2 separate regions of the Homo sapiens genome follow, and region 2 is linked to region 1. Evidence: fine-mapped expression QTL. A gene starts in region 1. The other region holds a variant in brackets. All regions are shown on one strand. Distances are between the middles of the regions. Region 1 holds the start of C5orf15 (chromosome 5 open reading frame 15). Region 2 holds the start of WSPAR (Wnt signaling pathway activating non-coding RNA).

The links. PIP is the estimated chance that this variant, and not a neighbour inherited with it, causes the effect. A credible set is the group of variants that fine-mapping cannot tell apart.
Region 2: its variant is the best candidate, but not a certain one, in a credible set for the expression of C5orf15 in ileum (CEDAR, PIP 0.82).

Annotation. Positions count from the first base shown.
Region 1 is chr5:133,964,781-133,973,217 of GRCh38, forward strand. It overlaps C5orf15 (chromosome 5 open reading frame 15), which reads right to left and starts at 3,845. Exons shown (of 3, transcript NM_020199.3): 1 at 3,666-3,845. The coding sequence starts at 3,804. It overlaps VDAC1 (voltage dependent anion channel 1), which reads right to left. Exons shown (of 9, transcript NM_003374.3): 9 at 7,091-8,082. The coding sequence ends at 7,991. LOC105379183 (a long non-coding RNA gene) reads left to right here and starts at 3,909. Exons shown (of 2, transcript NR_134247.1): 1 at 3,909-4,012; 2 at 4,971-5,443. RefSeq lists enhancers at 3,039-3,138, 3,769-3,988.
Region 2 is chr5:133,910,625-133,919,061 of GRCh38, forward strand. WSPAR (Wnt signaling pathway activating non-coding RNA) reads left to right here and starts at 3,053. Exons shown (of 3, transcript NR_131252.1): 1 at 3,053-3,372; 2 at 4,151-4,298; 3 at 6,431-6,645. The variant TTA/T (reference allele first, on the strand shown) is at 3,420.

The DNA.
Region 1 (8,437 bases):
TCTGTTATTCTGACATATGCAGCATTTGAGGGCTTTTCACCCTCCACTGCTCCTGCCTCATCCAAGTAACCATTATCTCACATGGATTATTACAATAGCCTCCTAATTAATCTGCCTGCTTCCACCCTAACTTCTACTGTCTATACTCAACACAGCAGCCAGAGTCATTCTGTCAAAACTTAAATCAAATGTTACTCCTCTACTTAAGACCCTCTAGGGCCATCCATTTCTCACAAAAGTGAAAATTTTTATAATAGCCTTCAAGATCCTACATGATCTGGCCCCCATTACCTCACTCTCATTATCTTACTAATCTCCCTAACAGCTCTATCCCCATTACCTACTTAATAGATAGCAGGCACTCAATAAATATTTATTGAATATGCTCTCGATTCAACTCTCACCACAAATCCCACACCACATCCCACATAGCATCTATGCACCTACTGCACTCCCTCAAGAGCCCATGCCATGGTTCTCAGCAAAACGCCACTCATTCTTCTAAGGATACCCCCAGTATCACCCTATTCATTGTTTAACTCCAATACCTAGCACCAAGTAGGAGCAGAATGTCTTAGTCAAGCAGTAAAATCTTGGAAGTAATACACAAATACAGCACAAGAAAAAACAAATAATTGACCTGAAACATGTAATACAAAGGCTATCAACTTACTCAAACTCCTTCAAATCAGAGAAGTTGATTAAGTCAGATATGAAGAGTATTCAGAACAAAGGTACAACTCTGACTTTACGGATTTAACTGTTGACCTTCTATGAGCATATAAATAAGACTTCTAAATCTTCCCTTTCCTAATTGATATTACCTCTCTACTTGAAGCTTAACATTTTAAAAATAAAGCTTAGGCCGGACACGGTGGCTCACGCCTGTAACCCTAGCACTTTGGGAGGCCAGGGCAAGTGGATCGCTTAAGCACAGGAATTCAAGACCAGCCTGGCCAACATGGCAAAACCCCATCTCTACAAAAATACAAAAATCAGCTGAGCACGGTGGCAGGCACCTGTGGTCCCAGCTATTCAGGGGGCTGAAGTGGGAGGACTGCTTGAGCCCAGGAGGCGGAAGTTGCAATGGGCCAAGTTTGTGCTACTGCACTCCAGCCTGGGCGACAGAGCAAAACCCTGTCTCAAACAAACAAACAAAAAAGGCTGGGCACAGTGGCTCAGGCCTGTAATCCCAGCACTTTGGGAGGCCAAGGCGGGCGGATCACGAGGTCAGGAGATTGAGACCATCCTGGATAACACGGTGAAACCCCGTCTCTACTAAAAATACAAAAACTAGCCAGGTGTGGTGCGCGCCTGTAGTCCCAGCATACTCGGGAGGCTGAGGCAGAAGAATCACTTGAAACCGGGAGGCGGAGGTTGCAATGAGCCGAGATCACGCCACTGCACTCCAGCCTCGCGACAGACTCAAAAAAAAAACAAAAAACAAAACTTTATAAATTTAATTCTCCCCTTCTACTGGTCCCTTTTTAAAAACTGCCCTAAAATAAAACTATATCAGCATTTCTTAAACTTAAGAATGCAGAGGACCCCGAGAACTCATTCACACACTGGTTTGAGAAACAATGCCTTAAAAATGAAATGCATTATACATTAAGTTTAGGTGATCATTTGGGGACAATATAATGGCAAATGTAGAGAACCAGGCATTTTTGAAATGGCATGACCAAGAATTAGTCACCCAGTGATCCAAACTGCTTATGTTAATTTTTTAGACTTGATCAAAACAAAAACATAAAACAAAAATTCTTACAGACTGACGAGCATATAACCAAGCATTGACAGTTTTTAAAACCTAATATGGAACAAATTTAAATAAATCTAATGTGGTAACCTTCTACCTTTGTAAACTCACTTGAAATTTGGAACTCAACACATTCTAGACTAATTTTCTTATTACAGGAGTGACTACTTTGAAATTATAAGGTATGCTTACAAAAAATACTTATATCCCAAGCTACACTGTAGTGCAGTGGAGCTGCTCGCCTATTAAAGACATGTATGTTCGTTTTCATTTAGCTTCTTTTCAGGACAGAATAATCTGAATTTATGACATTTTAAACTGGTGTATGTAAAGACTTAATTTAAAAGATAAAGATTCTCTAAAATGTCTCAGTATAGTTAGAAAAATATTTATAGGGCTCTAACAAATAAAAGCAGAGACTAAAGGACACTTAACAGTCCACATTCTGCCTCACTTCTTGCCCAATTTTCAACCATCTCTTAGGGGAAAAAAGCTGTTTCTGAAACTACAGTTGCCAGATATATATCCCTTAAGCATTCCAGCAGGAAATATAAATGTTTGTGTTTTATTTTTCTTAGATGATTAAATGGCCAAAACAATTAAGCTACTTAAGTACTTTAGGAACGGGAATATCTGCATCAACCAGGGAAATCCTCATTACATTTCACTAATGATAAAAGGGCCTTAGGAAATGGACAGCAGTCCTTCCTCAGGGACTGCAAAGACTTCTGGGAGGGCGTCCAGTTAGCAACACTGAAATGTTGCTGAGGAAACATAAGTATGTACCCACAGTACTGTCGCAGAGGAATGTAGGGCTGGACAGGCCCTGCTGGCAAGAAAGAAAACACTATACCAGGTCACACTGTTTTGCAGCTGAAAATTCAAATTTAGGGAGAAACGCAGGACTGTGTCTTGGCCTGAAAGAAAAATGGGACTACTAAACAAAATACCGTTTAATCCTTACAAGTTCTTAATAGTGGATTTTTCCCACCAAGTATCAGGCACTGGTTTACAGATTTCCTAATTTCTCAATAAAAGCCTTCAATCTCTTGATTTCACCATGCAACATTTGCAAGAAATGAAATATTTTATCAATCAAATCCTACAGATGCATTAAAACGAGGCAGGGTTATCCTGGTTAACTCGGAACACAGGGAAGAGGAATCATGATCTCCCTTGTCTCCAAACTCCTCTCTGCCTCCCAAGCCTTCAGGGGCCCAACGCCCCAGTACTCTGAATCTTTATCAAACACCAGAACCTCCCAGTCTTCAAATATGCACCAGTACCCTAAGACAGCTCTTTCCCTTTCACTTTCCCTCTCGGAAATATTCCATTGGTTCAGTCCAGTCACTGGATTACTGCCCCTGCCCGCCTCGGTCTTTACCACTGACCTCTCCCATTCTGGAAAACCCCCACCTTTCCTTGGTCCTGCAAGATTCCTGAGTCCCCCAAACTCAGGACCCTTTCCAGACACCACACCCCCAGCCCCGGCCACCTCCTCAGCCCCTGTCGCCACCCTCTCTTCCAGAGTCTCCTAACTTTCCGATCCAAGAAATTTTGGAGACCCCACCACCGCCATTCCTTGCGGCAGCCCATTCTTCAACGATCTCTAGGCGCTAACACCACTCCTCCCTCCCCGCCCATCTACACACCCTGCTGCCTGCTCCCTGGGTTCCTGCATCTCTCAGGGACCCCGCTTCTCAGGCCCCTTGGAGACCCTACCACCTTGGACCCCTTCAGACACCATACCCTCCGTCCTCAGGCCCGCGGAGACCCTGACCCAACCAGACACCGCCGTCTGCTCCTGACACTTGGAAGCGCCCTTTCCCTGGCCCGGCCTGTCTCCTGCCCTGCGCCCGAGCCCTCCTAGCCTTCCTAAGCCCACACTGCCGCCCCCCTTTACCACTGGATAGAGCGGCGGACACAAGCAGGAGCGCCAAGACCAGCGGCCGCGCCAACCCCACAAGGGCTTGGATGGCCGACCCGGGCAGCAGTTTCGCTTGTGCTGGCCCCCTCATCCTCTTCGGGACGGCAGCGGCCATAACGGACTCGGCTGGGAGCCTGCGCTGTTGCTAGGCTCTACGCCATGAGGTCAGACGCCGCGGCCCTCGGCACATACGTCCCAGCGTGGTGACGTCGAAGCCTGGAGACGTGCTCTGGAAACCGGAATAAGAAGGAAGGATTGCAGGGAGGAGGGAGTTGCCGCTAGGCGAAAGTGGGGACCGCCACACAGTTGGCTGCGGATTAAAGGTAGGGTGTGACGTGCTGAAGAGGGCCAAAGCGAGCCCCTCCCTGCCGCCTGCATGATTGGGTACTATACAGCCAAAAATAGCGTTTTTAGCCATTTTAAAAAGGAAGATCCAGCTGTAGAACAGACTGATCACGAAAGCGAAGTAACTGCTCTTCCTCTCTCAAAGGCGAAAGAAACACAAATGTTAAGTAGTCCTATTTCGGTGATGGGATTATAAGTAATTTTTAAAAATCTTTCCCGACAGTCATTTATTTTTTTTCAACAAAGATTTAGCACCTCTCCCTATTTAAGATACAGCAGTGAACAAAAAGAACCCCCCACCCCCCCGCCCGCCTTGGCAGTTTATTTTCTTGTGAGGGCGAATATGGTGTAAAATACACACTATACAAGATGATAAAGATATTATGGACCGGCCCTAGTGCAGTGGCTCCCAGCACTTTGGGAGGCCGAGGAGGGCAGATCACCTGAGGTCCGGAGTTGGAGACCAGCCTGGCCAACATGGAGAAACCCCGACTCTACTAAAAATACAAAAATTAGCCAGGCGTGGTGGCGCGTGCCTGTAATCGCAGCTACTCGGGAGGCTGAGGTAGGAGAATCGCTGTAACCCGGGAGGTGGAGGCTGCAGGGAGCCGAGATGCCACTGCACTCTAGCCTGGGCCACAGACTCCGTCTCAAAAAAAAAAAAAAAATTATGGAGGAAAAGAAAGGAAGGTAGCTAGGAAGTAGAGGTGAGGGGCTGCCATTGAAAATAACTTTCAGATTTCCTAAAATAAGCTTCTCTTTTTAAATTTTGTTACTTGAAATCCCCAGTGTATAAAAATGCAAACTTACAAACTTCCAAGAAGTTCACCTAGGGCCCTGGCGCCATACTTTGCTCTGTGTGTACGTTCTGTAAATGTCTCCTTAATAAACAGATACAGGCTTCAATTCATAAAAGTTCCATTTGATCAATTTCAGGAAAATCAATGTGACGTTAAGCAAGACATTTATTGTGCCCACAGCTTCACCATTCTGGTCTCTATGATTCCCTGCGAAGATTGCTGTTATCCCCCAGAGACACAGCTGAGCTGTCTCTCTAAAGGGCCTGTGTTCTACTCCTGAATCTGGTTTCCCCTAAGCTTTTATCTCACCCTGGTGACAGCTCAGAAACACACAAACTCTGTGTTAAGAAAACTAAGAAGTCATTCATCTGCACATTTCCCGAAATCCCCCAGAAGCCCGTATTAGACTGAATGGTGTCCTTATTGCAAACTCTCCACTTTAGCCAAGGTGCAAAGTCCTCCCAGTCCCCCAGGAGCTTCCCTTCTCTGAGCGGTACTTAAGTTTTCTGTAAAACCACTCAGTTCAACAAATGAGCTTCTCAATCTTAGTTTCTGCTTGTTGACTTTAAAGTTAATCTATAATAAACACACTGCAGTCCTCTTCCCTGACTCATTGTCCACTTTGTCCATTTGTGTCCTCATACCAGATTGTCTCAATTCTCTTAACTGGTGAGATATTATGAACTCAAAGCATTTTGCACAATGATATTCCAACATGCTGCATGCAACAAGCAGACAATAAGTAACTAGTGAGGGAAATATTCCCTCATACTCAAGAGAACCCTTTATACATTTTTAAATATTTTAGGGCCAGGCTTATGCCTGTAATCCCAAGTACTCGGGAGGCTGAGATGGGAGGATCACAGGAGCCCAGGAGTTCAAGGCTGCAGTGAGCTATGATGATGACAGTGCACTTCAGTCTGGGTGACAGAGTAAGACTGTCTCTAAAAGTAAAATATCTTAATACTGTACCTGACATCTGACTAGATGTACCCAGCAACCACTATGTGCCATAATCTCTGGATAAATTCTATGAACATTCACTTAGAAATAGCTGCAAGTCCCTGAAGACAGTATGACAAATACTGAGGCCCACAGTTTTTGGGTGATCAGTTGCATAAAATGCTAAAATAGATGGTTCCTGTTTTGAATGTCACTTTCAAACATAGAAAAAAAAGGAATTCTGCTGAAAAATCATGAATGGAAAAAAATGTTCATATTTGTTGAAGCTGGATCATGCATAGAGTTTATTACTATTTGTGTTTCCACAATAGGCTGGATGTGGTGGCTCACGCCTGTAATCCCAGCACTTTTGGAGGCCAAGGTGAGCAGATCACCTGAGGTCAGGAGTTTGAGACCAGCCTGACCAACATGGAGAAACCCCATCTCTACTAAAAATACAAAATTAGCCGGGTGTGGTGGCAAATGTTTGTAATCCTAGCTACTCGGGAGGCTGAGGCAGGAGAATTGCTTGAACCCAGGAGGCGGGGAGGCTGAGGCAGGAGAATTGCTTGAACCCAGGAGGCGGAGCTTGCAGTGAGCAGACATTGTGCGCCATTGCATTCCAGCCTGGGCAACAAGAATGAAACTCCGCCTCAAAAAAAAAAAAATCCACCATCAAGTTATTAAAAACATATAAATATATGGGAGAATTCCAAAATCACCCCTTCCCATGACCCATATGGAGGGACCTACAAACATGAAAGGATATTACCAGTGATTAGGTTACTTTACCTGGCAGTTAACTTGAAGGGAGATTACCCTCATTGGGCCTAACCTAATCAGGTGAGTCCTTAAAAGAGTTGGGGCTCTACCTGGAGGAGACTGGAAGTGTGAGAGGGATTTCACATGAGGGAGTTTTTCTGTTTCTGGCTTTGGCGATGGAGGGGACCCCATGGCAAGGAATGCTGGCATCCTCTGAGCACTGAGAGTGGCTCAGCCAACAAAGAAATAGGGACCTCTGTCCTACAACTGAAAATAACTGAATTCCACCACAACCCTGAAAGCCTGGAAGAGGACGCCAAGCCCCCAGATAAAATGAGAAGACAGCCTGGTCGACACCCTAATTCCAGCATTGTGAGAAGCTAAGCACAGTCCAGGTAGGCATGCACACCTGCCTCGCTTTGACCTGCAGAACTGTGAAATAAATGAGTGTTGTTTTAAGCTGCTAAACATATGGTAATCTGTTGTACAGTGAGTGAAAACGAATAATATATAATACACAGAGCATGAAGACAAAATAAATCTAAACAAATGCCCTGTTTATTTATATTTTATTAATAAAGACAACAGAAGAAGGATGAGGTTTCAATATTTTATTCAAGTTTTTTAAGTGTTGTTAATTACAGCATTTGAAGGGGAGGATCTAATTCCAACAAAATGGAAGACTCTAAAATGTACCCATTAAACTGCTAAAAAACAAATTGAGTGGTGAGAATACAACAGAAGTCCAATTTAGATTCTGAGTGTTGTCACCATGTGATTACAATCACACAGACACTTCCAAGCTTATAGCTGGAGCTCCTGGAAGCTATTTCATACTCTGGTGCAAGGGCCAAAAAAAAACACAACACAAGAAGGAATAAGTCCTGAATTATTGGCTTCATCACATCCACCTTCTCCACCCCAAAATGGCACAAAAGAAACAGTTACCACACCCTGCAGACCTTTTGGTGTAAAAGAGATGATGATGAACTGGGGTGGGAACAGGTCATGAAGATCTGTCTAAAAAAGTCCCATTCAGGTGAGTTTGTACACACCATCAAGCAGCGAGCCTCTCATCAATTAGGGTTAGGGAACCAAGGTTCGATTCTCAGGAAATCACAATTTCATTCATTTACTCAATATGAATTTACAAAGTGCCTACATATTATCCGCTTCCACTTGCAGCCATTTCTAGATAAAAAAGAAACCTGGCATCTCAAAGGGGCCACCAAGTTCTCCCCGAGTCTACCACTGAAAGGACCTTTTTTGGAAATAGGTTTCTTCTGTACCTCTGGAAGGGTAACATCTTAAAGCTGAATCAACTTTAACCTGGAGGGCTAACATATTTAGCAATACTTGCATCCCAGACATACAACATTAAAAGATACACTAAATTCTGAAGGTAGCTATGCTGCAAAATAGTTTAAAATTAAACAATTGTACAGTATTCATTTATGCTTGAAATTCCAGTCCTAGACCAAGCTTGTGGCCACCAGCATTGACGTTCTTGCCATCCAGAAGAGCTGACAGTGTCAGTTTAATACCTGCAGGGAGAAAAATGAGGGAGAGGAAAGGAGGAGGAATGGAGGAAAGAAATGACAAGAAAGATTAACACCAAATTCAGAACCTGTTCCAGGTATTATCAGCAGGGTCCAAACTACATGGCCCTTCAATCCTTGTTACTTAGCACTATCTGACCAACAGGCATACTACAGTGGGCTTATAAAACAACTATAATTATCCCACCGCCCAGAGAGCCTACCCAAATCTACTTCTGGAACCCCACTTTCCTTTTTCCTCTCACTGTTCCCCTGGTACAATTAGTCTATAGCACTGGTAGCATGCAGTAAGCTTCTTTGGCAATCATCCCTTTAAATGAAACCTCAATCCTGAATCCAA
Region 2 (8,437 bases), 54 kb before region 1:
AATCAAGCAAATGAATGACTAATGAAATGATTATAAAGCACTTTGCAGAAATGTTATGTAAATGCAGGCAGAGAATAACAAATGTGATGACAGTCACACTGCCATTGCTTCTGATTTGGGAGAGTGCAGTTCCGAGTCCTCCTGCAGGGACGCCAGGCGTTGGTATTCAAAAACACCTCATTGTCTTGACAGCTCTGAAGCTGGGCCCTTTGGGAAAAGTTGGGTATCCTAACCAGAGGGCTTGGGAGTTGCCTGTAAGCCCAGGTGTACACTGTGTCCTACTCGGCAGGCAATTGAGACGGCTTCAGGCGGGGCTGCTGGGAGAAGTTCTGCAGCATGTCAGGAAATGGTCCCTCCAAGACCCCCCTTCCCCAGCAAAAGTGACCTGCGGTGGCAGTTAGACAGGGCTCAATGGCTAAACAAGACACACAGGACCAAAATGACAGTGCTTACAAGTCTACGGTTTATTGCAAGAAGAGGATATAAGACAGCAATAGCATTACAGTCAGGAATTTTATCACTGCCAGAGTGCCTCACCACAGTCTGAAGGGGCCAGGCATGAACTCCAATTGTCCTCCCTGTGAAAGGGCACCCTGGGTGCAATTTCTTGAATCAAGAACCACCAACATGTGCACTCAATGCCTCGGAACTGGGAAACCCGAGATGCATAGATTTTCAACCTCTTATGAAGCTCAAGAATATCTGCTCACATACCTGCGCAGGGGGGAGCAAGGACTCTGCTACCCATGTCCTAGGTTGGTCCACGTTCATTACAGAAATGGCCGAGGCCCATGGACTACAGGGGCATACAACACTGGGGAACTAGAACTCACTGAGCAGCCAGACAGAAGAGTGGACCAGGCATAGTCGTCCCAGTGGTTTTAACCAGAAAAGGCTTCCAGGGGAGGTAGGGGTCAAGGAGGGCCGGTTAGAGCCCAAGCCAGCTAAGCTTCTTGGAGGGACACTTCTAGGGGATGAAGGAGTGAGAGTGGAAGGTTTCATAGAGAGGGTCAAGCATCGCCCTGCCCACACTGCTTGTTTCAAAGTGCAAAGATCCCATGGCTGGAGTTAAATGCTCCCCATGGTTGGGATGCTGCCTGTCCCTGTTCTTCACAGTTCCAGGCTGGGGATCCACCTCTGCCATGTAAGATGGAATGTGGATCCGCATGGCCAGGTCTGTACACCATCAATCAGATATGAAGCAACTCTGGGGGCTACCCCATCTTACTTCCTTCCACTCTGGAATTATTTGTGCTAGAGGGTACCTTGGAGCAGTAATTTCATATACCAACAATGTCCAATCAAGCACTGTAGAACTGCTGTTCCACAATTAAACTCTGTAGCCATAATTTGTTTATCAATAAAATGTAGGCCAGGTGCGGTGGCTCATGTCTGTAACCCCAGCACTTTGGGAGGCCAAGGCAGACAGGTCACCTGAGGTCAGGAGTTCGAGACCAGCCTGGCTAACATGGTAAAATGCTGTTCCTACTAAAAATACAAAAAATTAGCCAGGCATGGTGGTGCACGCCTGTAATCCCAGCTACTCAGGAGGCTGAGGCAGGAGAATCGCTTGAACCCGGGAGGCGGAGGTTGCAGTGAGCTGAGATTGCGCCACTGCACTCCAGCTTGGGCAACAAGAGTGAAACTCCGTCTCAAAAAAAATGTAAGGCCAGGCATGGTGGCTCATGTCTGTAACCCTAGAACTTTGGGAGGTCCAGGTGGGAGAATCTCTTGAGCCGAGGAGTTCGAAACCAGCCTGGGCAACATAGTGAAACCTTGTCTCCACAAAAAGTTTTTAAAAATTAAGCGAGTATGGTGGCATGTGCCTGTCATCCCAGCTACTCAGGTGGCTGACGTGGGAGGGTCGCTTAAGCCCAGGAGGTCGAGGGTGCAGTAAGCCATGGTGGTGCCACTGTACTCCAGCCTGGGCAACATAGAAAAACCTTGTCTCAAAAAATGAAAAATGAAAAATTTTTTTTTGAGAAGGAGTCCTGCTCTGTTGCCCAGGCTGGAATGCAGTGGCGCAAACTTGGCTCACTGTAAGCTCTGCCTCCCAGGTTCACACCATTCTCCTGCCTCAGCCTCCCGAGTAGCTGGGACTACAGGTGCCCACCACCATGCCCGGCTAATTTTTTGTATTTTTAGTAGAGACGGGGTTTCACCATGTTAGCCAGGATGGTCTCGATCTCCTGACCTTGTGATCTGCCTGCCTCGGCCTCCCAAAGTGCTGGGATTACAGGCGTGAGCCACCAGGCCCAGCCAAAACGTAATTGTAATTAAGTTTACTTTCCAAAGAAGAAAAAACACTCAGAATCCAAACAGGACAGGTGGAATCAAAGGCTTCTTCACAAAGATGCGTGGGGTAATGCGGAACCCCTTTTCTTAAGAAAAGTTTCTGCTCAGAGGGGATCCTGGCCTTGCTGTTGCAGCTGTTATAAATCGTCCATGGGCATGAAAATGGAGATGGTCTTTGGAGGCCCGGGGAGAGATAAGGAGAGTAACAGACGCCACAGAGGCCATGCTTGGCTGTGGGTTGCAGAGATCTCCATCCCGATTGGAATAGTAATTGCTTCATTGGATCATTGCTTCGAAAAATAATGCGGTGGGGGAGCAGAGGCAGCCCGCTGTGAATTCCAAGCAGGAACATACTGAACTGCTCCAGAGAGAGGGAACTCTGCAGCAGGGAGCGCCTGGAGCCAGGAGTCCACTCACCCCAGCAGGAGGACTCTCCAACAAGAATTCGCCACTCCTGACCTGGAATGTGGAGATGGGAATGGCCAGACGGGCCCTGGACCTGGTGAAGGATGTCAGGACACTACAGCGTCACTGCTCCTGGTGGCAGCCACCATCTCTTAACCCCTCAGGGAGAGTTAAGATTCAGGTCAGCACCTAGAGCAGCTACCTCAGAGTACTTAATGCCAATCCCTGGGCAAAGAACTTCTACACTAAATTCCATTCTGTCGTCACCACGCTGGGAGGTGGACATTACTATCCTCATCTGACAGACAAGGAAACTAACACTACAAGGAGATTAAATAGCATGACAAAGTCTCCATCCTGGCTGAACTTTGGATAAGATCTACGTTTGGGATTCTTCTTGGTGATGGATGATGCCTAGACCAGCCCCAGACACCCTCCCAAGCCTAAGCTCCCCTCTCCTGTTCTGACATCCCCATCCCACCAGGAACCCAAGCTTGTGGCCATCGTGCCAGGAGGACTTCTTCCAGGTTTTAGTATAGCCTGAGTGACCTCTAGGAGTCCTTGGACCTGAGCTAACTCCTGTACAATTTTGGCCGGTTGTCTGGTTAATAAATTAACAATTGGTAATGATAACAGCTAGCCAACATTGTTGGTTATATGCCAGCCACTAAGGTAAGCATTATCTTATATGGCCCTCATAATCTCTCTATAAGGTAGAG[TTA/T]TATAATCCCCATTTTATAGAGGGGGAAACTGAGGATTAAGCACGTGAGTCACCTGTGGGAAGGCAGAGTCTGGAATCCAGGGGGTTCGATTCCAAGGTCCATGCTTTTAACTCCTGTGTTTTTTTGCTCAGTTTCAGAAAACCCAGTTCACAGAAATCTGATACTTTAGAGATAAATTATTCACATAACAAAAGGATCTTTTACCTTGGGGAAGGATTCAGCTGGACTTTGAGCATAACTTCCTTCGTGCATTTAAAATGTGACCTGACTTAGGATTTTTGGTGTCCTGCCCATGACCTGATGAGAAACTATATTTGTCCCCAGGCTTCTTCAGCTGATATCCTTCTTCCCCTACAGGGAAGGAGGTCAAATCTAATCCTAGGCCTGGAAATGCTTGGCCAGGGCCTGGTGGTGCCCAAGCCCCTCTCAGGCTGGGCTTTGGCTTCTTGGGGCCAGGCCTTGGGTATAGAGGCCACTGCCCACACTCAGGCCCAGACAAGCTTGGTGACCTTGCATGGGCCACTCCGTGTCTCTTGCTCTGCCGCATGTAACCCTGGTCATGCTGACTTGCTCTTGCTGGGGCTCCCGGGTGTATCTAATAAATGATGTAAAGCACTTAGAGACATAAGTGCTCAACTACTGGGGCCATAAATTACCAGGGATGGATTCCTGAATGTTATGATTATGTGCTTGTGCTTGTTCTCAGTAATGAATAATTATCCTTTTAGTCCTGCAGCCACATCCAAACATCTTCACCCCACAGGACTAGAGGAGTCACTGACCCTGACTGCTGGGCTCCTCCGATGGTCATGGGCAACAACCAAATGCAAAGCTTGGTCCCTGATGGACACCAGTCTGAAGAACCTTTTCTATAAGGCACGTTTGGGTAAATTTGAACACAGGCAAGGTATTAGATGGTGTCAGGAAACTGTTAACTTTGTTAGGTATAATCATGGCATTATGATTATACAGGAGTTTGGTTTTTTTTTGTTTTTTTTTTTGAGATGGAATCTCACTTTGTTGCCCAGGCCGGAGTGCAGTGGTGCAATCTCAGCTCACTGCAGCCTCCACCTCCTGGGATCAAGCAATTCTCATGCCTCATCCTCCCAAGTAGCTGACATTACAGGCATGCACCACCACACCCAACTAATTTTTGTATATTTAGTAAAGCTGGGGTTTCACCATGTTGGCCAGGCTGGTCTTGAACTCCTGACCTCAAGTAATCCACTCGCCTCGACCTTCCAAAATGCTGGGATTACAGGATACGCCTGGCCAGGAGTATCTTATTTTTTTAGAAGTGCATGTTGAAATAGGGGTAAAATACCTGTCATTTATTTTTAGATACTTTAGGAAAAAAAAGATGAAGCAAATACTGCAAGATATATACATTAGCTTAATCTAGGGATAGGCATATGAGTGCTCACTACATCATTTGCTCTGCTTTTCTATATATGTTTATATGTAATTAAGTTTAAAAACAAAACCAGCAAAGCATGATGATTTCAGAGACGTGCTCTGGCTAAGTTACAATTCCCTCACAAGTAACAGGCAGAGGGAGATGAGCCATTTTCAGAGAAAGTGTATCCCGGCAGGGGCCAGAAGCATGGGGCTCACCCTGGTGCCCAGATCCAGGAGAACAAGCTCCTGGGATCTGTTTCTAGAACTATCCTCCCTTGTCGCACCCCAGCCACCACAAAATTTAAAATCTAATCCAAGACTAGTCACGCTACTTCTGCTCACTTTTCTACTCTTGATATCATAGGACTGTAGTCCCTCCTTCTGGAGGCTATTAATGTAAGCCAGGAAGTAGCTACTAACCATGCATTCATTTATTCATTTGTCATGGTTTTGTTTAGTGTTCCCTATATTCCAGGCCAGGTGAGGAATGAGAAATGGCATTTTAGTTAAGGTCTATTTGTACTACTATAACAAAAACACCTCAATATGTATAAAGACTCAAACACTAATAAATGGTGGTTTATTTCTTGCTTATAAACGAGTTTAAAGCCAAGGTCCCAGGTGGGTGGACAGCTGTTCTCCACTCAGTGATTCCGGGACCCAGGATCTTTCCATCCTGTGACTCTGCCATCTCCTAGGACCTTGTGGTCATCAGCCAGCTGATAAAAGGGAAAGAACTTGGCCTGGAAGCAGCATGTATATCACCTTTGTTCATATTCTATTGTTAAAATCTGGTCTCACACCCATGCTGAGATGCATAGGGATGAGGGTGCAAGAATAGAGGCTGGCTGGAAAATGCAGTTCCTGGATAGACTTTCCATCTACAACTCTTTGCCATGGCCAGAGGAGAATGGATTTTGGTAGGGAGTCAGCCATCTCTGCCACACATGACTTAAGCCCTCTAGAAGTTTACAGACTAGTGACAGAGTCACTGCAGTTTAGAGCAAGGTAATTTGTCCACTAGGGCAGGTAGAAGCAAGTCTAGTAGGACCCCCAACTCTGTGTCTGGCCCTATGCTCAGATGTGCTGCAGGGGAGACCAAGGAACTTCTGGGAACCTGCAGACTTGCTGGGACTCTAATGCATAAAATCAACAGAGACAGCCCAAAGCAGGGGGGTAAACACTGAACAGTGCCTAGAGCAAAGATGAGAGTGTATATTTTTTTGAATAGAGGAACTGTATCTCTGTGTTAACCACTAAGTCCTTAGTGCTCAGCATGGGAACTAACATAGAGCCAAACCTTAAAAGTTCCCTGCCCACTCGAGCTGTCTGGGAAGATGGGACACAGAAGGGGAAAGTGGCAGCCCTGAGTGTTCTGTGGCCTTCCTTAGAAAGAGTATTAGGGGGTGGAGGGTTACTAGATTATAAGGGAACTAGCTTAAATAAAGGCCTGGGGATGGGGGTGAATACATCAAGCACTAGGAACAACAGTGATCTCCCTGGTCAGAAGGTAGCAGGGGTGTTTTGAGGACCAGGGAAGGGACCTGGTCCTTTTCCTTCATGACATATCACCGGTAATTTTATATTTATTTCCATGCCTACTTCTTTAGAATCTCCTCCTGCTCTAGACTGTGCGCATCCTAACGGCAGCAGCCTGCCTGTCCTGTGCGCCACTGTGTTCCCAGAGTCCTCAGCAGGCCCTGGCCCACCTAGGTGCTCACTGAATGAACACACAAGAGAATGAATGTAAGGCCAGCTGGTGGGACAGTGAGCGTCTGCCTGCACAATGAGGCTGCCCAGGGGAGGAAGGTACCCCCTACATGTGTATCTACTCTGCTTGGAGCTTGATTTCGTTTCCAGCCTGACCTTCTTTTGTTTGCTCATTAATTCAATATTTGCTATGTTCCACCAAGGGACCTCAAGAGGCATAAAGGTTTTCCTTCTCCAGTAAAAGCAGCTTGCATTTGTCTTAAATTACCTCAATTACCTCATGGTGAACCCCATCTTTCTGTCCCACACTCTCCCCCACCTCCAAGACCCTCTGAAAGCAGCAACACGCTATGGTTCCCCTCCATGTCTCCAGAGAAAATACGAGGACTTCCCTGACATTGACTGGGGGAAAAGGGTGAGCAAGAAAACCTGGGGTTCCTCCAGGGACTCTGCTGCTGCCAGGTCTCCTTTAGGAGACATTTAGGCCCAGCTGTGAGCTACTCATCTGCTTTCTCATCCCCCAGAAAGCAAATGTTGGAACTTTGATGTATTTGAGAATCATTTTTTTACCTTAATTAGAAAATACACATTTGAACGGCATCAAACATTAATGAGACTTGCAGGGGGGTCGCTTATAAACAAACTTATTACTATGTTTAAGAAAAGCATGACTGAGCCCTCTCCTCAACTGTCTGACTTTGTTGCTCCCAGTCCTTCTGGGCTGGTCAATGAGGAGCGCGCCTGGCAGCCACATTCTGTAAAGCCAGGCTCTGGACAAGCCCCTGCTGATGGCTTTGCTGCTGGGCCAGGGACTTACACGCCTCTTTCCACTCTGACAGTGGACCTTCTTTGTTGTCCATTTATCCTCATATTGATTTTGCTATAAAGCCACACGGCACTCCCTCCCCGGCCAGAAGGAGAAACCTCCATTGATTGTATTGGAATAAGGTTTGTTGTAAAGAAGCGAAACGCCTAAAACATTGAAATGAAGTAAGCTCTTTGAAGGTCCATAAATCACCCAGGATAATGCCGCAAATGAACAGGGTTCCTTAAACACCTGGAAAATACAACCCCATAAAGCAGTTCTGACAAGAAATCACAGCCCCTCTCTCTCTGTAGCTGCCATTTGAAAAACACCATCAATAATGGTTATTGCTGTTTGGTAAGCAAAAGAGGGAAGTTGTGTCAGTCTCCTTGAGAAAGTTCCCTCAAAGTCACTTTGCCCAAATGGCAGCGTGGCGTTTTTCGCGCAGTAAATACATCCCAATTATGAGCATGTCATGTTAGCTTTTACAGTTCACTAATCACGAATTTTTTGTATGTCATTGCCAACCAGCATCTTTCCCTAATCGGAATTTATGGCTCTGTTTGGCAGTGAGTGGAGATAAGGAGGGTCATAGCAGTTTCATTTTTCCAGAGCTGGAGGCCTCAGCCAGGTTTGGGGCCCAAGGTCATGCCCCCTGCCCTCCTCCGGTCTGAAGGTCAGGGTCCTGCGCGCCTCAGGGATGGAGGTTGGGGGCTTCTGTGGAAAGCTCTCCTCTAGATTCCCGGCATCCCTGTGGCCCAGGCCGCAAGGCCGGACTTAGGTCCCCTGTCCTGGCTCATCTCTGTGGACTCACCTTCCCAAAAGTGCTAAATCACTAAGCGAGCAAAAATACTCAGCCAAGCCTGGAGCCAGACCCATCTCCACAGGGGATTCCCCCTGGCTCCTCTGAGCATCTCTCCCCTCGGTCAGACCCGGGCAGCCACCAGGGTGGGTTTGCCTCAAGGCCGCATTCTCATCCCCTCAGGGCTCACCAATCACGCCCTCCAGCAGACGCCCTCACCAAATCAGGTGGTACTCTCTGGGCCGCTCAGCGTCATACTCAGCATTCAGACTCTCCTGGCCTTTCCAGCCACCACAGGCA